4 linked regions of the Homo sapiens genome follow. The protein of the gene in region 1 purifies or fractionates together with the protein of each later gene. This does not show direct contact. Each region holds a gene or a part of one and is shown on either strand. Other genes may lie near its edges. The genes, in order: TEX2, GDPD5, SIGLECL1 and HTR2C.

Evidence for each region.
Region 2: the proteins of TEX2 (region 1) and GDPD5 purify together in Homo sapiens (co-immunoprecipitation; one large-scale study listed by IntAct). This does not show direct contact.
Region 3: the proteins of TEX2 (region 1) and SIGLECL1 purify together in Homo sapiens (co-immunoprecipitation; one large-scale study listed by IntAct). This does not show direct contact.
Region 4: the proteins of TEX2 (region 1) and HTR2C purify together in Homo sapiens (co-immunoprecipitation; one large-scale study listed by IntAct). This does not show direct contact.

What each region holds. Positions count from the first base shown.
Region 1 is NC_000017.11:64,149,244-64,157,600, forward strand, and holds part of TEX2 (testis-expressed protein 2), read right to left. Parts: intron 5,725-8,357; coding exon 5,599-5,724; intron 3,912-5,598; coding exon 3,702-3,911; intron 1,719-3,701; coding exon 1,598-1,718; intron 1-1,597. UniProt on the Homo sapiens protein: During endoplasmic reticulum (ER) stress or when cellular ceramide levels increase, may induce contacts between the ER and medial-Golgi complex to facilitate non-vesicular transport of ceramides from the ER to the Golgi complex where they are converted to complex sphingolipids, preventing toxic ceramide accumulation.
Region 2 is NC_000011.10:75,437,520-75,442,481, forward strand, and holds part of GDPD5 (glycerophosphodiester phosphodiesterase domain-containing protein 5), read right to left. Parts: coding exon 4,844-4,962; intron 4,285-4,843; coding exon 4,127-4,284; intron 3,792-4,126; coding exon 3,644-3,791; intron 2,443-3,643; coding exon 2,360-2,442; intron 1-2,359. UniProt on the Homo sapiens protein: Glycerophosphodiester phosphodiesterase that promotes neurite formation and drives spinal motor neuron differentiation.
Region 3 is NC_000019.10:51,255,180-51,263,536, reverse strand, and holds part of SIGLECL1 (SIGLEC family-like protein 1), read right to left. Parts: intron 7,609-8,357; exon of another isoform or gene 7,505-7,608; intron 5,796-7,504; exon of another isoform or gene 5,637-5,795; intron 1-5,636.
Region 4 is NC_000023.11:114,899,494-114,907,850, reverse strand, and holds part of HTR2C (5-hydroxytryptamine receptor 2C isoform a precursor), read right to left. Parts: intron 1,263-8,357; coding exon 436-1,262; 3' UTR 1-435. UniProt on the Homo sapiens protein: G-protein coupled receptor for 5-hydroxytryptamine (serotonin).

The sequences.
Region 1 (8,357 bases):
ACTTTAGAAAGAGTTGAGGAATCATACCAGCGCATGGATACGAGAATCCTCTAATATATCAGCTCGGAGGCAGAAGTGGCCTTTGATTTTGTATACATATAATAAGGTTGCCCATATGCACTGATATATATCCAACAATTTAAGAGAATTGGCTTAAGCTGTTCACAGTAGTTCCCAGTTACTATGTCTAGAACACATATTCCATGTGAATTATCCTTTTATTAATAAATCCTAGCGATAAAATGTAAGCTAATGGCCAGGTGCGATGGTTCACGCCTGTAATCCCAGTACTTTGGGAGGCCAAGGCAGGCAGATCATCTGAGGTCCAGAGTTCAAGACCAGCCTGGCCAACATGGTGAAACCCTGTCTCAACTAAAAATACCAAAAAATTAGGCCAGGCATGGTAGCTCACACCTGTAATCCCAGCACTTTGGGAGGCCGAGGTGGGCAGATCACGAGGTTAGGAGATCGAGACCATCCTGGCTAATACAGTGAAACCCCCATCTCTACTAAAAATACAAAAAATTAGCTGGGTGTGGTGGCGGGTGCCTGTAGTCCCAGCTACTCGGGAGGCTGAGGCATGAGAATGGTGTGAACCTGGGGGACGGAGTTTGCAGTGAGCCGAGATGGCGCCATTGCACTCCAGCCTGGGCGACACAGCAAGACTCTGTCTTAAAAAAAAAAAAAAAAAAAAGAAAGAAAAAGGGAAAAATAAAAGGCATGATGTTCTTTCCCCTCAGTAGGTTCAAAGTACTTTTCTATTTGGTGATGACATTAAGCTTTTTCAGAAATTGGTTATCAGTTATGTTTAATCTCTAGTTTTTAAATAAGAGGATTTTTTTAAGGCAGTAACTCAAAATATACCACTGCAAAAAGAATGTAGGTCTTCTTCAAAAGGTGAATTTCATTAAAAGTAAATAGTTTGCTAATCCATAAAACCCCGACAGACAACTGTGCTTCAAATATCTGATAAAAGTTTGATGGAAATAGCTCATCCTAGGGCCTCAGCTATACTGCTATTACCTTTGGTGGCCAAATGCAGAAAGAAAAGCTGAGAGAGTAAGCTCTGGCTTAATGAACTCCCAGACTACACTAGAAGCTACCCAGGGGAGGGAGAGGCCAGATTCATCTTTGGACTCCCAGGGCAGGTGGTACCTGGCACACAGAAGGGTTTCCAGGAATGTTTGTTGAACTGAACAAACTGAGCAAGGTGAACAGCACACAAGAACAGGGGGCAGCCTCCCTGCCCACAGGCCGGGTGCTAAGAGTTGGGCAAGGCCAGGCCTTGCATAAGAGAAAACAAAGCCTGACAGTCCTGGCAGGCTTGCTGGGAAAAGACATCATCATTTTGCTCTGACCCAAATCTTTTGGGTTTCCTCTGAAGATGACTTAGTAATGTTCTGTGGATAAGTTTCAGGGCTTTGATACTGTACCTGAAGTTTTATTCCCATATTTGATCAAATGTAATACTCTTCCGGGATGAAGGTCACCATCAGATTTTCAAAAGAGGATCCTGACCCAGCTGAAGTTCAGAACCTCGGCTAAACCCAGAGCTTCTATACTTGGTGTGAAATACTAGATAACACTAGAGGTTTACCTGAAACTCTTGCTCCAGTTTCTTCTCTATCCAGTCTGTCACATGAACTAAAGTCACTTCTCTCTCTCCAAGTTTTGGCCGAGCTTTCAGCTCCACATGTGGTGGCTTTCGGAAACCATACCTTTTTGAAGACAAGTAATAACCACATTTAGAAGCAAAGCAAGGAATGAGACAGGCACTGACAGCAAACAGTTCTCATTTACATGGGGCTTTATCACTACTTAAAATGTTATTTTCTTCTGAAAATGCCCTCTAAAAATATTCCACACACAAAGTATGAATTGTGAACCCCCTGTGTTCCCTGGATGGTGTTAGGGCTGTGGCGGATTTAGAACAGTTCTGACAAACTGAGAGAGCCAGGAAGCACCACTGGAAAAGTCCATGACCTGGGCATTGGTTTCTGTTTTTTTCTAAAATGGCAATAACCTTTTTTCTTTCAATTTTTATAAAAGTAGTATATGTACATTACAAAAACAAAACATACATACAAGCAGATAAAGCAGAGAGTGAAAGACACACTGCCTCTCTCTGAATGTCATCCCCAAGAGAGGACTATTGACAGAAGTAGGGTGAACTCCCCTTACATTCTCCTGTGCATATGTCGATCAATAAGGTTTGAAACCTGTTTTTTCATCCTACACCCCAACAATACGCTTTGTATGACTTCCCGAGGGAGCAGACTGGCAATCAGAACTGTTGGCAAAGTATCCAGACAAGACCCTGTATGCTATCAACTATCTAAAACCTTAAATCTGTCCTGGACCAGTGCTTTTGGAAATACAGTAAAAATGTCAAGTTGCCATAAATATTTCTAAACACTCTATACTTATCTTTATGGATCAATAACACATAGTTCAGCATTTGAGCATGCCTTGGGTAGCACTATCCTAGAGCCCTTTTATTTTATCTCCCCCTGAGCAGAGGCATTTAAAACTGATAAATCTAAAGAATTGGCAGTAAGGAGAAGAAATGTATCAATTTTAACTATTAAAATTTTTTTAAGGTTTGAAAGACCATACAATATATTAACAGTGGTTATTTCTGGATGGTGAGATTATGGGTTTTTATTTATTTATCTATTTTTCACCTTTTCCCAATCTTTCTCTTTTTTTTAACAATGAAAATATTACTTTAAAAAAGTATAAAAAGGCATTTTAAAGTTTTATTGGGAAATACCAGCATTATCGTTAAATGGTTAGTCAATTCAAAACCCCTCTTCTGATCATTCCTACAAATCCTTCTGAATACCGATGGTATGTACTAGCATGTTGGTTTTACTCTATGATAGAACAGAGCTATATTTTTGTTATGAGTGTAGTTTATGGTACAATGAGATCTCTTATGCAATCACTATTTACACTTATGCCCATTTTTATAGGACTTAGCATGTCAATTTTAAATTGAGATTCACAGGCAGTGATGCTGAACTCATCAGTAATTTATTTCAGTGACTCTCAACCCTGGCTTCATCACCCCCGACCCCTGAAATCCGGGGGGATGGGCCAGGCATAGCTATATTTTTAGCAAGTCCCCAGGTGATTTTAACATGCAGCTGGGGCTGAGAATCCAGTCCTCAGACACCAAATGCACATGCTCCTGACTCCTCAGCATTGAGGCCTAACTCAGGGAAGTCTCCCTAACTTCCCAGACTCTGTTGGATGTGTGATCCCCATCTTTAAAGTAGGGATAACAATGGCATCTACCTCAACAGGATGCTATGAGGACTAATCAGGTAATGCAATTACAACCAGGGCCAGGCAGAGAATAAAGGCGCTATCTACAAATGACAGCTGTTATTACTGGCAGAACAGTTGGCTTTACAGAGGAGGAAGACCAATAATAGAAACAGCTTATCTCATAAACTTCATGTATTGACTTTAACTTTTCCTACCATGTGAACATGAATTCTTGAATGTGAATTCACCACTCACAGAAGAAAGTACCATCAGATTTGCAACTAATATTAAGGTCCCATGAAAATTGTTTGGAAGTGCTTCTGCCCGGGAGAAGGTACTTTCCATAACCTCAAGGTTAAGCAGGCTGGGATTTCTGTGGCCATGCAATAGGAGGAATCACTTATTGTCCCTGAGGGCCCTCTACGCACCATACTCGGTCAGTCGGGGGTGGTGGAATGTTGACCGCCAAGGTTCCTCTACATTCTTGTACTTCAACAGTGAGCAGCAGGGGTGTGTTGGAGACTTCTTCGATCTTCTTTTTAATAAACTCTGTCTCTGTTGCTTTTTGGAAATATTTTGACTTGGTAATTTTATCAACAAACCTCATAATCTTACTTGTTCGATGACCTCCAACGTACCTTCAAATGTGGAACACAAAGGGCGGTTAGCACAAACTTTGCTCTTTTCACAGACAAAAACCTGTGGCTCTTCGTTCCCCTTACTTTAGAGCACCACTCGATGTTTTGGATGTGGTGATTCTGTGTTGGGGCGGGGGGCATCCTGTGCATTGCAGGGTGTTCAGCAGCATCCCTGGTCTCTACCTACCAGATGCCAATAGCACTCCCCCTAGTTATGACAATAAAAAATGTTGCCAGACATCGGCAAATGTCCTCTGGGGGGCCAAATCACCCCCAGTTGAGAACTACTACTTCAGAGAAGGTGTAAATGTCTGAAACAGTCCAAACCTTGACAATGGAGAGCTGGACAAAGTCCTCATGCAGAGGTTTCTCACCTGTCCTCCTTTATACTACTCCAATACCAGACAGAAATCCAATGACATATCAATCTCATAATCTCCATGCAGCAAGTAACAAATCATGCTGCATCAATAGGACATAAATCAGTAATTAATGGACTGTCTTTAGGTGGTGTCACATGGCTACCTTGAGTGGCAATTACTTTTCAAAGGGCTTGGAACTTCTTAAAGAAAAATGTAGCCTGGGCAACACAGTGAGACCCCCATCTCTACAAAAAACAAACAGAAAATTAGCCAGGAGTGGTGGTGTGCATCTGTAGTCCCAGCTACTCGGGAGGCTAAAATGGGAGGATCACTTGAGCCCAGGAGGTTGAGGCTGCATTGAGCTATGATCGTGCCACTGCACTCCAGGCCTGGGTGACAGAGCAAGATGCTGTCTCAAGAAAACAAACAAACAAACAAAATGCTACACCAAGTTGACGTGCTCACAGGCCAAGAAAATAAGCTGTTGTATCAGGTCACATGTACCATGAGACTCAGAAGAAAGGATATTTGCTTTTTAAAATCCCCCACAGTTCCAGAACATGAGGAAAAGTATGTGTTCAGGGAAAAGCAATCATTCTTAAGAGGGTCAAGCAGCTAGACTGTAAATAATACACACAAACTTTGGCACCAACTCCTCAAACATCTGAATTCTCATCTCCTGTAGGATTTCAAAAGTGAATAGGTTGGTTTTTTCTTATAAAAGTTTCTGAATTATTTGGCTTCTTTTAGTTTCTTCAATTCACTTTATGTAATTAAAAGATCATTGTGGATAGGCTATTTAAGCACTTTGATCATTTCACAGCCCAAGTTAACAGGGAAAGAGTAACCCCCTCCAAATGAAGTTCATGATCCAAAAGATCAGCTCAGTCATCAGCGCTTTCAAAACTCGCCAAAGAAAATCATCTGAATGTTTCTGCTTTGCAGGAACTTGCAGCTCAACAGAAGCAAATGCACTCCAGCTGAAGCTGAGGGGAGGGAGGCTCTCCGGGGGGAGGGGGTGTATGCTCGGTTCCTTCTGAAGGCTCAGGGAGATGCTTTTCATCATCAGCACACCCTTCAACTTCTCTATTATTTAATCAAACAGCAGCAGAAAGCCATTTTAGTAAGGAAAGCTATATGGGTCTTTTTGCTTGGTTGCCTGGAATTTAAACAGACCACTGACCTGGGATATTAATAAAAAAACCATCTACTCAACATTAAAGAGGAAGGAAGATCACAGAGGAAGGAAGGGAAACAAGGTTCACTCCCAACTTGCTGTCCTGATCCCTGGAGACTCAGAGGCACAGAAGCACTGATCCACTCACCCTTCAGCCCCTGGGAGGAGCTGTTTGTCTCCCCCGCTGGGCTCTGGGGCATCGTCTTCCTCGGAGGAGCCAGCGCTGGAGGATTCCTCATCGCTGTCCGCCAGACAGAATGCCCGGGGCCTGCAACTGGACAGAGAGAGAGTCACCACCACTGCCTGCCCTCACCCAAGCTCTGCTTAGAAAGAGAACACACACACCCATGCACACACACTCAACCACAACAGGGTCGGGATGTAACTGTTAACTACATCTCGTCATTCTCTCCAACCCACCCAAACCAGAAGAGGCCCAATCCAAGAATCCTTGGATCAGCGCAGATGCTCAGGACACTCTTCAGCACCAAGGCCTCTGACAGGACCACAGAGGCCTTGGACCCAGAAGAGGTTGCTTTTGAGCATGCGTCAGAAGGACAGGAGGTGGGAGTGTGATGCGCACATAAAATGCAGTGATTTCAACCAGCAGTGCAGCGGAGCCACACGGGAGGATGAACAGAAAGAGCGGATGGTTGCAAGAGTGAGGTGACAGCTTATACTGGTGACATGGCCACTTCTCACTGATGATGGGATGTTGAGGCAAGTCCCTTGGCTCTGGCTTAATTCAGCAACTCTGATGCTTTCTGGCTTAGTAACCCTCCAAGTGAGTTTTGACTCATGACTCCTTTCCAGTGAAATTACGTATTTCACTCCACACCTGCCCTATCTCCTGAGGGTCACAGAAAAAGCCAACAACCACATACACACACACACACAAAAAGTCTCAGGAGACTCTAGGAAGCAACTGACATGAGAACCCAGGAAATTTTCCGGAAAAATACATGTCTAAAGACCATTCCTTTGACTGAAGTAAGGGAAAGCCTCATGGGACAGCAGTGTCCCTCACTCAGCTCTCCAGGGCAGATACTCAGTTCCAGAGGTGTGGGGTTGCTGGATTACCCGCAGAGGTGAGGGGTCCAGTTCCCGTCGGAGGGGACCTGGGGGCTTCTGGGCTGAGCCTCGGGCCTATAGAAAGCAGCTTCCTCCCTGGACCGTGGCTTTGCTTCAGAAAGTACTGGCAGGGCTGTGTCTGAGCCCAGAGACTTAAATGGGACAAAATGAACAAGGGACAGAGTAGTCTCTGAACACTATTACACAACCAAATGGTCACCAAGCAGAGGCTGGTCATTGTATTTTTGACAAGGACACAGTTACATGGACAAGGGAAGGCAGTGGGGCTCAGGGCCTATCTCCCTGCAGCTGCAGTCCTTTGGTTTTCCTGATGCTGTCCTTGGGCCACCAGAGGCCCACGGGGACAGTTATCGCCTGACCAACAGGAGCCAAAGGCACCCAAGGGCACAGCACACATGCCAGTGTGGAACTGAAGGCCCGGCAGTGGCCCCAGCCCTGTGCACTGGGAGGGTAGGACTGAAACCTCTACACTGGAAACAGGAGCCGGCTGTAAGAGGACCCGGACTGTGTCCTCCCTGGCAGGACACACAGCTCCTCCCTACCCCCACTCTGAAACATTAGAGCCAGTGCTCCAGCCAACAGGCTGGACTTCCACATTAAAGGGAAACTCCCTCTGCAGAAACAAAAGCCTCTTGTCCCTGGCCATGGGACAGCACGTAACTGAGTCTTCCTCCTTCCACCAGAGGCCTGGCTGGTCCAGGAAATGCTTATGTGTATCCACTGGCTGCAGAGCCATATCAGAGTGTGCTGTGGTTAGGCAGCCCTCACAGGAATCTTATATTTAAAATGTATATAGCAAAATTCAATTCCTATGAAAGCCTAAACCGGGTCTTGGGTGAGGAAAGTCAGAGATGTAAATCCCCAAAGATCACACGCCCCTCTCAGAAGAGCATCAGAGTTCTCCATCAGTAGGATGGCAGTGCCTGAGGCTCTCTGACCTCATGCTGCCAGGTGTGAAATCTGTCCCCACAGCACAGGGAGCCTGCTCCTCACCCACAAAGCACAAAAGGCTGCCTGCAAGCTCTGGGACCCCAGTGAGATCTGCTGAGCCACTGCTCCTTGTGTCCCCACTGGGCCATATCATCTGGCAGCTCCAACCCTGGGCAGAAGATGCCAGAGGCTGAGCGCTGTGGCAAGCTCTCAGGTTACTGAGTTAATCCTCTGCAGGTCACAGAACAGGACAAATTTTGTGGCTTGAAGTGAACACTTTAGGTAATGCTGTACCAGTTCAAGCTGATCAGATGATGTGAAAATCTGATTTTGACCGAGTGGTACCTCTGCTCTCCGCGCTGGGGGCAGTATTATGCGGCACCCAATACTTAGGAATTATAAGTGTAGCCCAGTGTTTGCCTGATATTCATTTTTATAAATGAACATGCATTTTATGACCTCAGCATGAACTTCAGAGGAAGATACACCACACTTACTTGTAGAAGACGTGCTGGAATGTAATTAGCCTACTTGTTTTAAACACACCTCAGAATTCCAGATGAGTGTGGTATCCTTTCAAAGAGACACCTTAAAAGGCTTATTCCAGTTATGTTCCTTCTGCCAAAAATCTTTTGGAAATGTCAGATATATAAGAAAAAGTGAATTATTTTATCACTGACACTCTTAGACCAAATATTTTATTTCTTGGTCTCATAATGACCACCACCTCTGATGACTTCTAGCAATTTCTCAAAGGTCCAAACCATCTACAAAGCAGGACAATTTGCTGTCACTCAGGATAGCTAAAAGAATGTCACGGACTGTGGAGGCAATTCTAAAAAGAAGCCCCCAAAATGCTTTAAATGAAGACGCATAATTAAATTA
Region 2 (4,962 bases), on another chromosome or scaffold:
GGAAAGCAGGGGGGTGGGGCCAGGTGGTAGGGGGCTTTGCCCAGAGCTGGTCTGCACAGGTTCCCAAGGCAAGGGGGTTAGAGTGACTTGGAGTGGGGCCAACTGCTGCTCTGTCCTGGCAGTCCTAATGCGGAGGGAGGTCAGAGCATGAATCCCTCTGATGGCTGAGACAGGTGCAAGGTGGGGGTAAAATTACTCAAGAGTGGGCTGGGAGGTGGAGCATGCACAGGGCATGAAGGGACCAGGCACTAAGTGGAAAGGACTCAGGTTTCTGTGCCCAGCCCAGGCCACTGTCTTCACTATTGTCATTCCTCTGAACTAGCCCCAGTCCCTGGCCTCTGAACTTAGACCTTTCCTGGGATCTAGGCAGAAGGATCACTGGACTCTCACCCCTGTCCCCACCAGGAGGAGGGGGTGATCAACTTGGGAACAAGAACCCAACTGCCTCAGGGACTGAACCCTGCTTGGGGGATGGAGAGAGCCAAGACTCCACAAGAAACCAACTGTGAGTTACTAGATGGGGTCAGCGCAGCAGAAGTGGACAGACAGATGGACAGGCGGATGGATGGATGAACAGAGCAGGCAGACAAGGGGAAAGCAGGAGGCGGGGGGTGGCACGGACACCCTGGCGAGGCTGGCTGCCCTATGAATCATTGAGGGCAGTGAGCAAATCTCTCTCTGTTCATCGCTGTGCCCCAGTACCATCAGTGCCTGCCGTGTCCCGGGAGCCTGACCTGTACTTGTTGAGTGAATGAATGGAAGAATAAGGCCCACAGGGAAAGAGTATCCTCCCCCGGCCTTGTCCCCCAGGGTACCTTCCTCCACCAGGCCTCTCCTGATCCCCAGGAGACAATGACACTGCCCTGGCTGTGTCTGAGCAGACCCAGCGTGTCTGTGCCAGCCACTGAATCACCATGGGGTGGCCTCCCCAGCACCCTGGGGCTCCATGTGAGAAGGCCCAACTCCTGCTGCAGACAGCATCAGCAACCAGTGTATGTGGATGTTGGTCAACTGGGCGGACACAGGAATGACTCAAGGAATGTCCCATAGCCAGGGACAGCATCTCCTCCTAGAAGCTGATTGGTGAAGCTGCCTGACCCAGGAGGGGCTAAGGCACTAGACGGAGGGAGACGTGGGTCCCTAAGCTCTAGGTCCCATCCTGGAAATTCATGTTGAAACCCAGAAGGACAGTGTCAGGCCAGGGTCTCTCGGCCAGGCATATCCAGAACAGGAAGCTCAGCCACTGTGGGGTCCTCTGAGGGGAATGAGGAAAAGGCTGTGTGTTGCGGGGAGCAAAGCAGGGATGGGTGTTAGAGATAGAATGTAAAGAAGAGAGAGAAAGAGATGGGAGAGGCAGAGAAAGGTAAACAGGAAGAGTGAACAGTGGGAGAGGCAGAGCCAGGGAGGGAGAAGATGGGAAGAGAGAGGCAGAAACTTGGTAGGGTCTGCCCTGGGCAAGTGGTGAAGGCCCCTGTAAGTGCCAGAGGCAGGGGGATGGGGGTACCCAGGCAGGGTCCCCTCCCCCAGGGAGACACTTTGGTGCAGAGAGGGGCCAGGTCAGGAAGCTGTCAAGGAAACGCTGGTCCCCACCTGCAGAAACGGCCGTGGGAACAGGGAGCAGAGGGACACACACGGCAGTGGGACGGGAGGAGCAGAAAAGAGGATTGCGGGGGTAAGGGAGGCTTCAGGCGAGCGCGCTGTCTGCGAGGTGGCCCGGGCACAGGGCTTGGTGCACGGTGGGTTTTTAGACAGAACTGGAGAAGGGATGGCAAGAGGGAGAAAGAGGAACAGAAGGAGGAGGAAGACCACACCAGAATTACCTGATCAAGTGATAGCTGTGAGATGCCAGAGTGCAGCAGAGAGAGGGGGAGGGGGAGAGAGGAGGGACATGCGCCGATCAGAGCAGGATGGGACAGAGAGAGAACATCAGTCAAGAATAAAATCCCAGCCCCTTGGTTCCTGGCTGGGTGGGGGCCCCAGGCTGGCCCTAGACCCTCCCTGGGACCAACCACACCTCCCCACTGCGAGCACACCCCAGCTATCTTGCTGAGGGCTGGTGGGAACCCATGCCCTGGCTAACAGATGAGCAGGCCAGCCCGGTGAGGAGCTGAAATTCACCTAAGCCCACATAGCCACCCAAGGCAGAGCTTGGCTCTGGGATCCCAGCTGCATGTTCATTCCAGAAGTCACCCAGCCTCTGTCTGAGGGAGGATGGGGCCACCGGAGTCCGTCCTTCTTCCCTGGTCAGGCCTGCTCCTGGCTGAGGCCCAGGGCTCAGGAGAGGGTTCACCTGGCTGGGGTGGGGGCTGGGCCTGCTGCAGGGTAGGGACAGCCACGGAAGTGGTCAGATCCTACTCACTTCTGGAGCACGAAGATGCCCACGATGAGGGTGAAGGAGACCAGGTCGGCAGTGACCCACATGAGACAGTACTCGTCCGGGGGCTGTGGACAGACGGCCCGAGGCCAACTTCCAGTCATGGCCAGTCCAGACTGAGGCTCCAGACTGAGGGTCCGTGGACCAAAGGACCCCACATGGCCACTGGGGAAGGGCAAGGGAGGACCCTGAGAGGGTCTGGGGGCTGAAGATGACATTTTGCAGGTGTAGGCTCCAGGCGCTGTGGGCCTGGGGGCCGGGGCGTGTGTGTGCACACGTGTGCACTCTCAGGGTAGGAGGGGACTGTATGGTGCTCAGGGCAGAGGGGTTGTGTGCTAGGCCTGCAGGGTCTGTGTGTCTAGGGTCCTCAAAGCAGGAGCCAGATACTGAAAGACAATGGCTTTGCCGCCCCCCGCTGCCGACTCTCATCCATCGGTCTCGACCCTTTCCCCAGGCTGCCTTCCCTTCACCCTCCTCTCCCATAGAACCATCCACAGCTTAGGTCTGATTCATTGGCACTGCATTCTCTCAGCCATAAGGATACCCTCCACCTGCCTTCTGCATGCTCAGGGTGACAGTGGAGCCACCACCTATCTGCAGGTGCCCAGTCAACCAGCTAAAATATTGCTTTATTTGCTGTTCTCTGAGCAGATTTTAATTGTTTCCTATTCTTTTTTATTTTTATTTTTTGAGACAGGATCTCACTTTGTCATCCAGGCTGGAGTGATCACAGCTCACTGCAGCTTTGACCTGCTGGGCTCAAGCAATCCTCCCACTTCAGCCTACCGAGTAGCTAGGACTACAGGCGTGTGCCACCTTGGCCAGCAAATTAATTAATTATTATTATTTTTTTTTGTAGAGACAGGGTTGCCCAGGTTAGTCTTGTACCCCTGGGCTCCAGTGATCATCCTGCCTCTGCTTCCCAAAATGCTGGGATTATAGGCGTGAGCCCCACGCCCGGTCAATGCTTCCTATTCCTGTCCTTGTTACCCTCCAAAGCAAAGAAACCCAAGCAGCTCTTTACTTCTTTAGAGCCCTTAGTGATGCTTTTCTCCCTGTGGATGAGGCCCAGGGTCCTCCCAGCACCTTAGTGCAGATCCCAGATGCCATGAAACCCTCATGCCTCAAGCCTGCACGCCCACCATGGACTCCCCACCATGCTAGAGACCTCCCAGGGACAGCTCCAAGCACAGAGCTTGCCGAGTGGTCAGGGCAGGCTATAGGCAGCTCCAGCACTGCCCCCCAGGGGCCCTCTGCCCCCCAACTCACCATGATCCAGAGGGGGGAAGGCACCTGGGACAGGGCGTGGGAGTTGTCAGAGGTGACGGATGGGACCCCCGCACACCACAGCAGGGAGAAGAGCCACGGTGCGTTGACTGTGTAGAGGTTCACACTCAGGTTCCAGGACGCGTAGTCCCTGTGGGGCAGGGGAGAGGCAGGTCAGCATGCGGACCCTGGCAGCTCCAGGCCCAGTGTCGGGGCTGGTAAAGCACGTCCTGTTCACGACCTCACAGCCATGCCCGGGGCAAGGAACATTGGCTCCAGAGGGCCAAGCTCCGGGACAAGCCCGGGTCTGCCCGACACGCTCACCCTCTTGTCTTTGAACCATGTGTGCCTGATTCCTCTGTGTGCCCATCCCTCTGCCCGACCGTGTGTGTGTGTGTGTGTGTGTGTGTTGGGGGGTGGTGGTGGCAGGACTGGGAGAGACTCAGTCCCACCCTCTCCTGGAGGAGCCCAGGGCAGGGCAGGCACCTGAGCTCCTGGCGGGACACCTGAGTGTAGCGCAGGTTCAGCCGCTGGATGTGGCCTCTCCGCAGGCTGGCGACTGCCTCCTTGGAGCCTGATGTCTGTTGGAAGCCGGGAGCCACCTTCCGCACCAGGGGCCTCTGCCTGCTAGGCAGCCACATGACCTGCAGGCAGAAGAGAGGCAGCCTCAGACTTCTCTTCTGCACGATGCGTAAGAGTACCTACTCCTCCTAGAGCACCTGTGGGGTTAAGAGACAGGACCTGGCAGGCGGTGAAAGCTTAGATGAAGTCATTAGCAGGGCAGGACTCAGTCCCAGCCAAGGCTGCAAAGTGCACTGGCAGCAACTCAGGAAACTTCGCTTCTGGCCTGCTGTCAGTACGGGAGGGAAAACCCAAACAGCCACTACTCTGCACATGGCCACTAGCACCTAGTGTGCCGTCCTAAACTGATGTCAGATTTCTCTGGTCCCAGATTATTACACCAAACGACAGGGCAACACTTCACTGAAATAACTTGACCGCCTGGACCTTTATACATTTTAAAGTGTTTTCTTGTTCCCCTCTTGTCCCATGATGACCCTGCCAGGGAAGTGAGCAGTGTGTGATCCCCATTTTACAAATGGGAAAGCTGAAGTCCGGAGTGCAACAGGGAAAGGCTATGCAGCAGCAGGGCTCTAGCCAGGCCAGGGCTCCCGGGGGCAGAGCTGCGTTGCAGGGCCTCACCTGGTGCTGGGGGAAGCCGGAGTGCAGCACGGCCTCCAGAGTCACGTTGATAAAACTGCTGCGGTAGGGGTGCTCCCGGGGCGGGTCACGCAGGTTGAGCAGCAGTGTGGCATTGCCCT
Region 3 (8,357 bases), on another chromosome or scaffold:
GCCTCCCAAACAGCTGAGATTACAGGCATAAGCCACTATGCCCGGTTTGTTTTTGTTTTTGAGACAGGGTCTTTCTCTCTCTCTGTCACCCAGTCTGGATTGCAGTGGTGTGATCACTTAAGATAGCAAAGTGTTGACATTCTCTCAGGAAAAATATGATAATGTTTAGTTTGGTGAGAAGTGTAAAACAACATCTCCCTACCACAGTATAATTGTTTTGCCATAAAATTTGAAATGAATGGTGTAAGTAACATTGTATAGCATGGCACAATGTTCCCTTTTATATCCCATGTAGACATTTATTTAATAAATTTGTTCTCAGTAAATTTCTATTAAAAAAGAGACAGCACGAGACCCTGTCTCAAAAAAATGATCAATTCCAATTCCTACTGGATATCATGACTTAAAAATCCATAGTAATTCCAGCGTGGGCAACATGGTAAAACCCCGTTTCTACAAAAAATACAAAAATTATCTGGGTGTGGTGGTACGCACCTGTAGTCCCAGCTACTTGAAAGGTTAAGGTGGGAGGATCACCTGAGGTAGGGAGGTCAAGGCTGCAGTCAGCCGTGATCACGCCACTGCACTGTAGCTTTGGGCTACAGAGTAAGACTTTATCTCAAAATAAATAAGTAAATAAATAAAATACATACATACATACATAGTAATTCATAGAGTATGGTATTGACACAAGGATAAATAAAAATACCAATGGGACAGGCTATATGGTTAGAAAAATACCTATACATATGTGATCACTTGGTTTAGGATAAATATGGCACTGCATAGAAGTTAAAGGACTCTCTTTTGAATAAATTGTGTCAGAATAACTGGACAGCCATACAGCAAAAGGAAATAAGACCCCTACCTCATGTCATACATAAAAATAACTTCTAGGGACATTGGGAAAGTCCTTAGACTTTTTTTCTAGAACAGTGCTGTGTGAAGAAATATAATGTGACCTATAAATGTGGACTACATGTATAATTTTAAATTTTCTAGCAGCCACATTAAAAAGGAAGAAATGGGTAAAATTAATTTTAATGATGTTTCATTTAACCTAGTGAAAGAAACCTAGGTTATTCACTAGGTTATTCATATTGAACCTAACCCAATATTTCAACATGCAATCAACACAAAATTGTTAAGATTTGGTACATTCTTTATACACTCTTCAAAATCTTGTATATATTTTACACTTACAGCACACTTCAATTCAGACTAGCCATAATATAAGGGCTCAATAGCCATATGTAGTTAGTAGCTACCACATTGGTCAGTGGAATTCTTTAATACAACATAGGAGAGTATCTTGGTAAGTTTTAGGTAAGGAAATATTTCTTTAAAAGGGCCAAAAAGCACTAGCTATGAGGAAATATGGATAAAATGGACTGTATCAGAATTAATTTCTGCATCAAAAGATACCATTAAGGAGGACAAATGCAAGTTGCAGGGCTGGAGAACATACTTGCAACACATACAACGTGCTTGCATCCAGAACATAGCAAGGATAAAGGGGGTAATGAATGGTGTAGTACATGAGTGGAGTGTTTGGGGTGTTGTTAATGTTCTATTTCTTGACCTCAGTGGTGGTTACACTGGTCTGCTCCCTTTGTGATAATTTGAGTTGTATACTTACTATCTGTATTAATACTTCTCTGTATAAAATTGTACTTTGATTTAAAAGCTTGTTTGAAAATAAAGACAGAGAAACAAACAGAAGGGATACAAAAGAGAATAGAACGGTTGGGACAAGTAGAAATCATGTACCTAGATGTTAGATTTAAACTCCAATACATCAGTGATTTAACTAAATATAAATGGCTTAAATTATCCAGTTATGAATCTAAGATCATCATATTGGAAAAAAGAAGCAAAGCCAAACTCCATGCTGTTTACAAAAGACACAACCAAAGCATAAGTGTAAAGGACAGTTAAAAAACCAAATGGGCCGGGAGCGGTGGCTCATGCCTGTAATCCCAGCACTTTGGGAGGCCGAGACGGGCGGATCACGAGGTCAGGAGATCCAGACCATCCTGGCTAACACGGTGAAACCCCGTCTCTACTAAAAATACAAAAAATTAGCTGGGTGTGGTGGCGGGCCCCTGTAATCCCAGCTACTCAGGAGGCCGAGGCAGGAGAATGGCATGAACCTGGGAGGCAGAGCTTGCAGTGAGCCGAGATCATGCCACTGCACTCCAGCCTGGGCGACAGAGCAAGACTCCGTCTCAAAAAAAGAAAAAAAGAAAAAACCAAAGAATGAAAACATACACCAAGCAAATACCAACCAGAAAGCCAGGTAATGTAGACATACCTACATTAACATCCCATAAAGCAGACTTTAAGCAAAAGGCATTACCAAAGATAGAATGGCATATCTCCTAATGATAAGCTGACATTAACAGGAATAAAGTATATATTTAAAATTTGTGTTTGCCTACTAACATAGTCCAAAAATATATAAAGCAAAAAATCTACAAAAATAAAAGGAGAAACAGACATCCACAATAGTAGTGTGACATTTTAATCACTGTTCTCTCAGAAACTGACAGAACAAACAGACTATTGGAATATATAAAGATTTCAACAACTTGATCAGCAAATTTGACCAAAAATATATAGAGAATACTGCAATCAATAACTGCAGAATACAATTTCTTTGTAAGCACACAGAGAACGTTTACAGAAATTGGCCACAGCTGGATCATAAGACAAATCTTAATAAAATTTCCATGAAAATATTTAAAATCTCATTAATAACCAGCAAAATGCCTGTTAAAACCATCAGATACCAGTACATATCCAAGACAATATATCAAGTCTTGGTGAGAATGTGGTACTCAACTTTCACACACTATTGGTGGAAATATAAATCAGGGCAACAAAGTTATTTATCAAAGCAGAAGATACACATACTCTATGACCCTCAATTCCACTCCCAGATGTATACTTTATAGAAATGTTTGTGCATATGTACGCCACAAAGGAATGCAAAAATGTTTACAGTGGTATTATTTAAAAATAGCTAAAAAGGTAAACAATCCAAATGCCAGTAAACAGAGAATTTTAAAAAATGAGATACTACACAGCAACAAAAACCTATGAGCTAATGCTAGATGCAACAACATGGACCATTCTTACAAATAAAATATTGAATGAACAAAGCCAGACACAAATAAGTAATAATGTATGAGCATTTCTTTAAAATTTGAAAAAAACCGGGCAAAATCAAGTGTTTAAGAACGCACACACAAGTAGTAAAAATCCTTTAAAAGTTGCCAAGAAATGTCCAGCATAAAAGGTAGGATATTAATTGCCTTTTTGGGAGGAAGAGGTCTGTTTCTCTGTTTATTTTATCATTTGTAGGGGGTATGAACAGGTCTTTTGAGATACTGGCTATAGTGAATTCCATAAGGCTGTACCCTATATAGGCATCCTTTTAATAGTACAGTTTCCCATTGCCCATCTGCCTGACCATATGGCCAGGCCATTGGCCACTGCCCATGAATTGGTAAAAACCCAAATGTGGAGGCAGTTCAGCCCACTGAAGTGACTTGTTTTTGCCTTCCTCAGTATGAGTGCCAGTCTTCCAAACAGGATGTTATTAATTCACTTTGGAATTGCCATCCATAAATCAAACCGCTCTTAGTTGGTCAATCAAGAGCTATTAATAGACATCATTCAAGTAATAATAGGATCTCGCAGCTCTTCAGTAGGGAAAAAGCCACCTGTTCATAAATATAACGAGGACCTCCTTGCATTTCCCTGGTAGCATGTTCCTGTATAAACAATTTCCATTTTATTACGAGACTCTTTTGGGCATGGCCTTCCTTACTACAGTGTTTTTCCAACATGACAAACACATCATGAGGATTTCAGGTGTCAGGATTATTATATCCTTCAATGATGGGGCAGACTCAAAGCCCAATAGGCAGCTAGTTGTCTCTCCATTGGAAATTTTCTGGCCCCAAATCCCAGCATTCACCACTGGGTGGTGCTCACTGGCCTTAGCTCCAGTCTGCCTAAATAAAGCAAACGTTAAGCTTCTAACATGTTTTGTCCACCAGATATCCTGTACTGTTTCAAATTAACAATTAGTGTGGGCTTGGGCAATCTTATTGGTTCCTATTTAGCATATTCAATCAATATTGGTTGAAGGGAAGATTTACATGCCTTCTGTTTCATAATAGTACGTAGGGGAACTCTTCCATAGTTGGACACAATATCTTTCCTCATAATACATTTAGGTAAATACATTCACATAACATATTTACATAGTCTGTCCAAACATTCCAATTTTCATCCAAAGTTTCGCCTGAATCTCATCCACTTTGTAATCCTATGTCTTCGCAATCTAACCATAGATGCTATTAGAATTTCACCAACCTTTTGGAATGCAGGTATAAGACTCCCACATGAGTCCCAGAAATATCTCTTATCCATCCCCTGACTATTTTACTACTAATATGCATATGACTTTGGGTCTTCAGTTAGGGGTCAGGCCAAGCAACCCAGGCCCTTTTGTCATTTATCTTGATTAGATCACATGTTCGTCCCCTCAGGAGATCTGAGGTCAGATTTCCCATTGTCATGTTTGCCTTCTGGCTTCTAAAATTCCTCCAAACTAGGGTAAATATAGCAGACTTGATGGGGGACCTTCAACACTGGAGGGCAAGTCTAGGTTCTCACTGCTCCACCTAATTTCTAAGAGTGCTCCACTGAGACCTTTGTTTAGACTCCCTCAATGTCCACTTAACTCATCTCATTTCTTAATAACTGTTTATAAAGATTTCCACCCTCTTGGAAATGTTCGTCTTTTCTCACTCTCTGGTGAACCACTCTAATTTTCTTTGCCATCTGTCATTTCAGCCTAACTTTTCCCTTTAGCCACAGCCCTGAGGCTAGCAGCTGTAGCTCAGGCTGGCCAGAGCCCAAGATTGGGCCAGCATCAGGATCCGCCTCAGCCACTTTCATTTTAACGATTACAGATAAAAATAGCCAAGGGACTGCCTATTTAGTTTGTTTCCTTATGCATCCAGTGGGTCAGCTCCTTGGGGGTTGGATCCATTGTATTGAAAAAGCAATGGTAACTTTTACCTCCTGTAACTGTTTGCAGAACAGCTGCATTTCTATACGCACAGGTGACCGCAGGACAGCCCAGGAATCAAAGGCTTATCATCTTGACTTCACATCCTTCCTCTTTTCAAACCATATGTTTCAGTGAGTCAGGGCTGTTCTAGTGAATCCCATTTCTGATACAACTGAAAAGTTAGGGAATGGTCCACAAGATCCCCTCATTTCTGACACCAACTGAAGATATCAAGGATCCCTGATTACCCTCATTTCTCAAATCATTTGCAAGGTTTTGGAACCCCAAAACTACCCTTAGGTTTGGTAATTCACTAGAAGTACTCACAGAATTCACTGAAAGCTGTTATACTCGTGATTACTGTTTACTACAACTAAAGGATAGAGATTAAAATCAGCCAAGGGAAGACATACAGGGCAGAGGCCAGAAGTTCCCCACACAAAGCTTCTAGTTATCCTCTCCCTGTGGAGTCATGGACAGCATAACTTAGCTTTCCTGGTGATAATGTGTGACAATATGCATAGTACTGTCAACTAAAGAAGCTCACCCAAGCCTTGTGTCCAGTGTTTTTATTGGGCCTCCATCGTGTAACATGGTGACTTCCCTCATGGTGGATCTTAGCATCCAGCTCCTCCTGAAGTTGAGCTGATACCATTTGATCCAAAGCCCCTATTCTAAATCACATTGTTAGACTATCTGGTATTGCTTCCACTCTAAATCACATTGTTAACATTATCTGGTGTGGCCAGCCCTCATCCTAAATCACATTTCTAGAATATTCAGTGTGATGCAAGGTCCCTGGGCAAACAAAGACACCCCTATGAGGTGTGACATTCTAAGAGCTAGGGAGTGTCTTCCAGAAGCCAAGGGCAAAGGCCAGACTTCTCTTCAGGCAAGGTTAAGTTCCTTAGTACACAGAATAAAATGTCAAATTCAGAATAGCAGCGATCTCTATGTTTGAGAGTGGGAGATGTGTTTGGGGAAGGGAGTATACCAGGGGTAGTGTTTTCTTTCTTTTCTTTTCTTTTTTTTTTTTTTGAGACAGTTTCTTGCTCTGTCACCCAGACTGGATGGAGTGCAACGGAGCATTCACAGTTCACTGCAGGCTTGACCTCCCAGGCTCAAGCAATCTTCCCACCTCAGCCTCCCAAGTAGCTGGGACTACAAGCATGTGCCACCATGCCTGACTAATTTTTTAATTTATGTAGAGATGGGATCTTGTTATGTTGCCCAGGCTGGTCTTGAACTCCTAGGCTCAAGCCGTCCTCCCACCTGGGCTTCCTAAAGTGCTAGGATTACAGGTGTGAGCTACCGTGCCCAGCCAGTGTTTTCAATATTAAGCTGGTGGTGGGTATATGCTCATTATACCATATTTATATCTTTCTATATGTCTGAAATATTTCACAATCTTTAAATGAAAACTGGATCATTTGTCATTTATATAAAAGCTTTATATATATAATATGTAAATATGTATCTACATATTCATATATAATACACTCAAAACTATACATACATGAATGAGTAAAACAAAGATCTAGAATGATGTATAATTTGATACCAGTGCTTACCTATGGTTAGAGCAGTGATCAGAGATGAGATTATAGAATTTTCAGTTTTTTAATTCCAGGTTTATTGAGGTATAACTGACAAATAAAAATTGTATATACTTAAGGTGTACGACATGACGTTTTGATGTATGTATGCACTGTGGAATGATTACCACAATCCAGTGAATTAACATAATCAGCACTTCACAGTTACCATTTTTTTGGTGGTGAGAACACTTAATATTTACTGTCACAAAATTTCAAGTATACAGTACAGTGTTATTTACCATAGTCACCATGGTGCACATGAAACCTCCAGAACTTATTCATTCTGCCTAGCTGAAACTTTGTGCCCCTTGATCAATATCTCATTTCCCTTAGCCCTCAGCCCTGGCAACCACCATTCTATACTTTGCTTCCATGCGTTTGACTTTCTTAGATTCTACATATAAGTGAGATCATGCAGTACTTGTCTTTCTGTGTCTGACTTGTTTCACATAGCATAATGTCTTTCAGGTTTATTTACGTTGCTGCAAATGGCAAGATGTCCTTTTTTAAGGCTGAATAACTTCCACTGTGTGTGTATGTGTGTGTGCACAATAAATCCTCACTTAACATCATCATTCAGTTCTTGGAAACTGCTGCTTTAAGTGAAATGATGTAAAATGAAACCAATTTTACCATATATAAGAACATGCAAACTCCACACAGATACTGGTACTGGCTGGGAATTGATTTTTTTCTCTTATGATTAGACAATGTTGAACAAAATGACATTATTTGAATGGGGTGTGTGTGTGTGTGTGCGTGCATGTGTGTATACATATATAATATTTTCTTTACTCATCTATTAATGGACACTTACGTTGATTCCACGTGTGGGCTATGGTGAATAATGCTGCAATGAACACAGGAGTGCAGATATCTCTTCAAGATACTGAGTTCATTTCTGTCAAATACATGCCTAGAAGTGGGATTCCTGAATCATATGGTAGTTCTATTTTTAATTTTTAAAGGATACTCTATACTATTTTCCATAGTGGTTATACCAATTTACATTTCCACCAACAGTGTACAAGGTTTACTTTTCCCCACATCCTCATCAACACTTGCTATCTTTTGCCTTCTTGATATACCCATCTAATAGGTATAAGGTGATATCTGTGGTTTGAATTTGCATTTCTCTGATGATTAGTGATGTCAGGCATTTTTTTTATATACTTGTTGGCCATTTTGGTATGTCTTCTTTTATGAAATGCCTATTCAGGTCCTTGCCCATTTTTTAATTGGGTTATTTGATTTTTTTGCTATTGAGTTGTTTGAGTTCCTTATGTATTTTGGATATTAGCCCCTTATTAGATGGATGCTTTGCAAATATTTTCTCCCATTCTGTAGGTTGTCTCTTCACTCTGTTGATTGTTTCCTTTGCTGTTCAGAAACTACTTTGCTGCAATCTTGCATGTCAATTTTTGCTTTTGTTTCCTGTGTTTTTGCAGAAATATCCAAATAACTATTTCCCAAACCAATAATTTTTATTGTGTATTACATATAAATATACAGAAGTTTTCTCCGATGTTTTCTTTTAGTAGTTTTACAATCTCAGTTCTTATATTTAAGTCTTTTTTTTTTTTTTTCTTGAGACAGGGTCCCCACTCTGTTGCCCAGGCTGGAGTGCAGTGGCATGATCTTGGCTCACTGCAACCTCCATCTCCTGGGTG
Region 4 (8,357 bases), on another chromosome or scaffold:
TAACCCAGAACAAATGTCCACTGAATTTGTTAATTTAGGTGTGGTTGAAATATAACCACTGTCATGTGCCTCATTCTGGTCACCTGCAAATGCCACCTGAGATGAACATGAACGTTGCCATATGCACAAAAGAAAGAGAGAAAGGAAGGAAGAAAGGAAAAAAGGAAGGAAAGAAGGGAGGGAGAGCAAAAATAAACATTTTATTCATCAAACAATCAAAATAAGTTAGTCTCCACCTATTATAAACAGTAAATATAGAACCCTAAATCTCACTAATGTAGGCATGATTGTAAAGTACAAGGTTGCAAAGCTATATGTAAAAACACTTTTTCAGACAGCAATATTTACATTAGTTAAGACCAACAGAAAAATTAAAGAAGAAAATTTTCCTACATATGTAGCTTGTACCGTAGGAAAAGACTGTGCTGTTCTTTCTCACACACTGCTAATCCTTTCGCTAACCACACTGGAGGGATTTACTGGTAACTCTAAATTCTCAACTTGCATCTCTATACCGGGCTCATTGTCACTGGCTTTCTCGATCACCGGTTCATTGGTATGCCGATAAATGTTAACATTAAGCTCCCTCCCAGACAAAGCAGTGGCGGCAACTCTTGGAATCTGCCTGACAGGAGGCTTTTTCTCTACCTTATAATTGCAACGCAAATAGTTGGAGAATGCCCTTCGGTAAATTTTGTTGAACAGAGTATACACCAGAGGATTGATTCCTGAACAAACATAGCCAATCCAAACAAACACATTCAGAAGCTTTTCCATGAGCTTTTGGTTACAGGACTTCTCACAAAGAACAGACAGAATATTGGTAATGAAAAATGGGCACCACATGATCAGAAACACAAAGAAAACAATCCCAAGGACTTTCGAAGCTTTTCTTTCATTGTTGATAGCCTGCATGGTGCCCCTAGGACGTCTCTCCTTCTTCTTTCTTCGGCGTGCGTTCTGGTCTTGGTTAGGGTTTGCAGAGTTCTCTTCCTCGGCCGTATTCCTCTTGCAGCACTTCAGGAAATCCAGACTTAGTCCAGGCGGTTCCTCGGTGTGGCCGTGCAGTAACATCAAAGCTTGTCGGCGCAGAACGTAGATGGTCAGGCAATACGTAATCACCATAATCGTCAGCGGTATGAAGAAAGCTACGAAGGACCCAATAAGAACGAAATTTGGGTCGTTGAGCACGCACGTCGTGTTGTTCACGAACACCTTTTCTTCGTCCCTCAGTCCAATCACAGGGATAGGAACTGATACACCTAAAGGAAGAAAAAGGAAGGGGGTTGTTATAGCATCTTGAAGGACTGAACAGATGTATTCAACGGCATACATTAATTTGCATTTTACGGAAGGAAATTCAGACCTGATATTTGTTGAAAGCTATTCACGGCATAATCGATAGTCACATGAAACACTAGCAGTATGGCATCAGAAAATGATGGCGTTTTTCATGTTAGGAATGCCTTCTCCCTAAATTCTGTAGAAGGCATGGAATTACCCTTATTGATATTAACTATATTAGAGACACGGTTGTGTCAAAGGGTGGATTGTGTCAGATTTGTTGGATTTCCAGTTCCAAGAATCGTCCTGGCTCAGAGAAGGCACTCGATAAATATTTGTTGAATCAATGAATAAATTCACATCTGTACTTGATGACATTAATAAAGCCAATCATTCTTTCTTTAGCATATCATTTTCCAAATTCAATAAAAATGAGACAAATACCACCTGTAATAGTAATAATAGCCTATTAGGGATGGCTGGGCTGAGTCTAACTACTATGCAGAAATAGTCAATAAGCAGAGACTGAAAAGATTCTCTTTTTAGCAAGGGTTTTTGTTTGTTTGTTTTATTTTGAGTCTCTGGGCATGAGCAATGTTTCAAAGTCAAGAGAGGGTAAAATGTAGAGTTGGGAGATATGCAGTCCTCCAGTTTCTGTGTGGAATTTTGAGCATTTTTGTTTTAAGAATACTGAGAGGTAGTACTCTAGGGAAGCACTTCCTTCAATAAATAGGCCCATAGTTAGGAAATATCAATGAGGAGGTGGGAGCAGAAGGTGATCTTGTGCCTGAGCATAAGTAAGATATCTGGAAGCTTTCAGAAATAACCACAGTAGGTCTTCAAGAGGTCCTGCATCAATACATAGAGATAAATAGATAACAGATAGAGATTGCTGTCCTGTCTTGTGTCCACAGGAAGTCGAAGCCTGGGAAGTTCAGATTGTATTTGTGGGGTTCCATTAGAGATTATTAGGAATCCTGGGCTGGTAGGTGTCTACATCATGAACTGTGAGAGGAGACAGAAATGCATTCTCAGAGATCCTTGCTGACCTTAGAGAACACACAAGCAACTGTGACAAACCTGAAACAGAAAGTCCTTACTAGTTGCTTTAACATGCCTAGTCAGGTATAGAGTGTCTGGCTGGATGATCAAGAGGGAAAAAAAACAATGAGTCAATGCTTCTTTGCTAGAGCTTGCTGAGAATGTTGACGGATGTTTAATCTCTGGGAAGATAGAAAGAAGAGAGTGTTTTGAAAGTGATCTTTAAGTCTTCTTCCTCAGACATGGAATTTCTAAAATGACTGGCCTTTTCCTAGAGTAGGAAGCCAAGTAACAGGGTGAGGAAGCCACAACAGATATGACAAGACTTCCCTGGGTATTGGTCCATGCCTACCTATAGCTCTGAACCTAGGCACACCATTCAAGAAAGTAGGAAAGACTGAAAATGAGGAGGCACTGCAAACAGTAAGTCACCTCAAGTAGTGCATGGCCAGATCCTAAAGCAGAGACCTTTGCACCTAGATGGGGTGGAATGACAATTATTAGAAGGAGAAAAGAGAAAGTGATTTTTCACCAAGTTTGATGAAATGCCTGGGAAATTTCAACAGGAATTTGGGAATATAGAGTACAGCAGAACCACACAGAATATATTTCTTAAGAGTTAAAAAAAAAAAAAAGCAGTTAAGAAAGCTGCCAGACTGTGTTGTTTAAATCTTTATGTGAAAAATCATAAACGTAAGGTAATCTCTAGACAGCACAGATCAAACATGCCCTAAAGACATCAGTGTTGGCTTAACCTTAATAACATATTTTAGTGACGGATTAGTCTGCAGAAAGTTAATATAAGATTTTTAAAAGAAGAAAGAGTTTCTTTAAAAAAATTTACAAGAGAAAATGTTAGAGGGGGAACTTATATATTAAGAGATACTTAAAAGATCTATCAAGTAATTATAATATGTGGATCTTCTTGGGATCTTGATGAAAACAAAAACATGTTAAAAATTTTCATGACACAATTAAAAATCTGAACAATGACTGGCCTTTGGATGATATTAAATAATTATTGTTCATTAATTTTTAGGTGAGGTATTGATATTGTGGTTATATAAAAAGACAGCTCTTTTATTTTTTGATATACATACTAAAACACTTACAGATGAAGTATTATGATGTTTGGAGTTATTTCAAAATAATACGGGAGGGAGAAGTGGATGAAAGTATGGATGAAACAAGACAGTCCACAGGCTGATAAATCTTGGAGCTGGATGATGAGTTCATGGGCTTTATTTTATAATTCTACCTTTGTAATCTTTGAAAGTCAACTATGAAACAGAAAGTTTAATAATTTTTTTCAATTTAAAAAAAGAGAAAAGAAGACATAGAGGTCCTTTCTGAAACAGAGTAACATCACTGTTAAGCCTCAGATTTTAAAAAGTCTCCAAAACTGATTGGCCACTGCTAATCTTGGAAGTGATTCCTTCCAGAGCAAAAAAACATTTGGATCCCTAAATAGAAACATTCAACCACCTGTTTGATAAAACTGTAGGGAAGAAGGCCATTTTCTGACAATGTGTTGATAGGAAACTCTGTTATACCTTTCCAGGTTCCTTACAGCAAAAGCAATAAAGGATGCAGGAGTGGTGTTTCCCTCTTCAATCTCCTACCTTGCCAACCACCCAGCACCTTAGATACTACAGCGTGGGGCTAGAGACTCAATCTGGGGAATTTGCTTTCACCCTGGAGGCATCATGACTGAGGCATGTACCTTCAATTTCCCACAGGAAATGCTGCATATATTCTAAGTATTCATAGACACACTTGGACGTTTCTGGGGAAGGCCTCACACACAGGCCATGAGATTGGTGGAAGTTTGTATCACTTAGAGACCAACTCCAGAGTAATGTTAGCTCGCTTCTGTTAAATGATTTATTCACTTGTCTAAGGGATTCTTGAGCCTAAAGTAGGCCTTGTCAAGGGACAGCAAGAGAGGGTAGCAAAGTCACTGTAGATAAGCTGAAGCTGTTATTGGGTAGATGAGGCCAATTTTATCCCTGGCATCTATTTGTATTATTTTTTGTGCATTGAGGAAAGGGTGATTCTAATAGCTGCCATTTATTGAGTGTATCCTATGTGCCAGGCACTGAGCCATGTATATTACTGACATTACAGATGTAGAATGTATTATCTCAATTTGGTTAAAAACTTTATAAGACAGGTATTATTTGGCAAAGTAGCTTAACCAGTTTACCAAATCTGCACTGTCATTAATTTTCTTTTGTTTTTAGAAACCATGAATGCAATCAACAAAACAAGAAGAAATTCAAGTTATTTCAAACATATGAGGAAATTATAAAAAGCAACAACAAAAGCAGCATTAATAACAATATATGTTGTACACTGTCTTATTCAATACTTTAAAAAAAAATAAAAGGTAAGTGTCAGCAGTTCTCAAAGTGTGATTCAAGGACCCTAGGGGGGTGTCTGAGACTGTTAGAAAGCTTGCTAGGTTTTCCTTTCCTAACTGTCTTTAAAACTGCATTTTCTTCATAAATTTCAACCAAAACAACATATCACAACTGTTTGAATGTGGATACATATATGAGAATCTAGCTTTCTTTCTGTCAAACAAGATATTAAAAGAGATTTTCAAAACTGTGGGCCGGGTGCAGTGGCTCACGCCTGTAATCACAGTACTTTGGAAGGCCGAGGTGGGCAGGTCACCTGAAGTCAGGAGTTCAAGACCAGCCTGGCCAACATGGTGCAACCCAGTCTCTACTAAAAATACAAAAATTAGCCAGGGATGATGGCACATGCTTGTAATCCCAGGTACTCGGGAGGCTGAGGAAGGAGAATCGCTTGAACCCAGGAGGCAGAGGTTGCAGTGAGCCGAGATCCCGCCACTGCACTCCAGCCTGGGTGACAGAACAAAATTCCATCTAAAATAAATAAATAAATAAATAAATACAATAAATTTTCAAAACTGTAAAACAATGCCTGTTTTCTCTCTGATTTGTTTTGGAGATTATAGTTTTCAAAAATATGTTTTTATGTTAACCTTAGATGGGTTTATTATTATTATTGAAAATAAAATTATTCCTAAATATTTTAAATATTTCTCAGTTTTAATTTCTAATACCATAAATATCAATAAATATAAGCCGCATAAGCAAAAACTCTTTTGGAGTCCTCGATTATTTTGAAGAGTATAAAGGGGTCCTGACACCAAAGAGCTTGAGAACTGCTGTTCTATGTTAATGCATTAAGTTATTTAAGTGCTAGAGAGTTAAGTTCAGCAAATGTGTTAAGTTTGTCTTAGCATTTTTATTTCAACCAATAGTAATTCATGCGATATTATCATGTCTGGTAAATATAAATAACAGCAATACTGGCAACAAAACACTTTAAATTCATCATTCATTTTTATAAAAATTCCGCAAGGCACATGTTATTTGATGAAGTTAACTTCAGAAAAATTAAGTAAGTTTAGCAAATATCATGAGGCAATCTTCAATATTTTTGAAATTCCTGATTTGGCCAAAGAGGAAAACTAGATATGAACTACCATTGAAAATATCAGGTGTCACTAACAATAATTCCAATAATAATAACTACCTTTTACTGAGGGCTTATTTGTCATGCACTAAGCCACATATTTCACAATTGTTATATACTTTTATATATATTTTATTCAATCCAGACAAAAAAAAATAAATTATTAGGTGGAATCACTTAACCTTTCTGAGATTAACTTCAATAACTCTGTATCATCTTCCTTAGAATTTTAGAACCAACAAAGGTAAGTTATAATTCATGTTGTGCTGCAAACCTTAGGTACTTCTTCAACTAATAAACTGTCAAATATATTTCACATGCATTATCTAATTCAGTTGTTGCAAATCTCTGAAAAGTGGTTATTATTTATTAAGGTTACTTAAACTCTGAGAGGAAGAGTGCCTTCAGTAAACATATAAGAGTCTTACTTAGCATTTTAGAATATTAAATTCATTAACATTGTTAAGTTAAAGCTTTACTGAAAATATCATATGTTACTTCTACCACTATTTTATTCAAAATATAACGTTACCACTATTATAACTACTACTGCTATTATAACTACTACTGCTGTTACAACTACTACTACTATCATTCATTAAGTGTTTATTATGAGTGCTTACTGACTCTGATACTTTGTCTGCATTACATACTTTACATGCATTATCTCATTTCAGCCTCTTAAAAGCCCATTAGTTGATGAAGTTATTTTACTGCAAAAGAGGTAAGTTCAGAGGATGTATAAATATGTTTACATTATTTCTTAAAACCTTGAATTCAAGCAACACAGATCAGTTCTCTCCAAACCATAAGGTCATATGCCAATGATTCTAAGAGGCACATTTCTTTCAGATTTTAACATCTTTGAAATTGTGATGCTTCATACAACCCATAGTGTCTTACAATCATTGTTGGCCAGAAACTAGTCATTAGATAGTTGTCATTGTCAGTACATGTGTGAAACTGGTCTGAATAACTTCTTTTGACATCTTCTGGAAAGATCAAAACTACCAGCAGCAAAATTTGCAAAATGAGTGTCAGCTACATGACAACAATTCAGTGTAAGTGAAAAGTTATGTCATTACGAACAAAGGGAAGGAGTGTTCTGAAGAAGACATCCGCAACAGTTTCAAATGCCACAGAGAGATCTAGAATTTGAAACATTTTCTCTATCTTTGAAAATGAAGAGGTCATTGGTGATTATAGAGAGAACAATTATAGTGAAGACAGGAAACAGACTGCCAAGAGATGAATAATAAATAGTGATACAAAAGAGATTAGAGAATACGTTTCCTAGAACAGCTTGATAAACATCAAAATGAAAACATAGGGAAATTATTGTTAACCTGCAGGGTTATCTGTTTCCATGGGTTATTTTGCATGGAGAGGAAATTTTTTTTCAAGGATACCTAGAAAACCATACTATTTCAGGCTGACAGGAGTTCTTGAAGTCTGGTGATGCTGCAGTCATTGTCATTCATATGGCTCCTGGCAAACCCATGTGTGTTGACAGTATCTCAGACTATCCTCCTCTGAGTCATTTTGCTCTTTATGATATGAGATAGACATCATATCTTGATTATGTGTCATCAAAGCAAGGGACAAGAAGGCTGTTGGAGCTGGCAAGGTCACCAAGTTTGACCAGAAATCTCAGAAGTTTTAGATGAATATTATCCCTAATACCTGCCACCCCAGTTTTAATCAGTGGTGGAAGAATGGTCTCAGAACTGTTTGTTTCAATTAGCCTTTTAAGTTTAATAGTAAAACTGATTAATGATGACAATGCATTGTAAAACCTTCAGAAGAAAAAGAGAATGTTTTCTGGATCCCCTTTTTTTTGCATGTGGCAGTTTTAAGTTTTTAGTTTTTAAAATCAACACTTTTTAATGGAAACGCCCTGACCAAAAATCTGTTACAGAATTTTGAAACCCATTAAAATAAAGCTTAATGCAAGAAAAAGAAAGAAATATCCAAGGGTGTCATATCAGATACCATGGAGGACAGAAGATAAAATCATCTTTAAAAAGAATAAAGTAAAAACTACAGCAACAAACGCACATCTGTCAACCCAGAATTTTATGTTCAGTGATCATATACTTCATAAATGAAGGTAAAATTAAGACTTTTTCATGTCAACTAAAGCTGAGAGAATTTGTTGCCAACAGAACTTCATTAAAAGAATGCTAAGGGGACCAAGATGGTTGATTAGAAGCAGCTACAGTCCACGGCACTCACAGAGAGGAACAAAAGGCGTGAGTGAATACAGTATCTTCAACTGAAATATCCAGGTACTCACTTTGGGACTGATCAGGGAAACAACTCAACCGATGGAGAACAAAGAAAAGCCAGGCGGGGCAACGGCCCACCTGGGAGCAACACAGAGCCAAGGGAACCCTCACGTCCAGTCAAGGGAAGCGGTGAGTGCTTGTGCGACCGTGGGAAACCATGCTCCTCCCACGGATCTTTGCAACCCACAGATCAGGAGATCCCCTTGTGAACCTATGCCACCAGGGCCTTGGGTC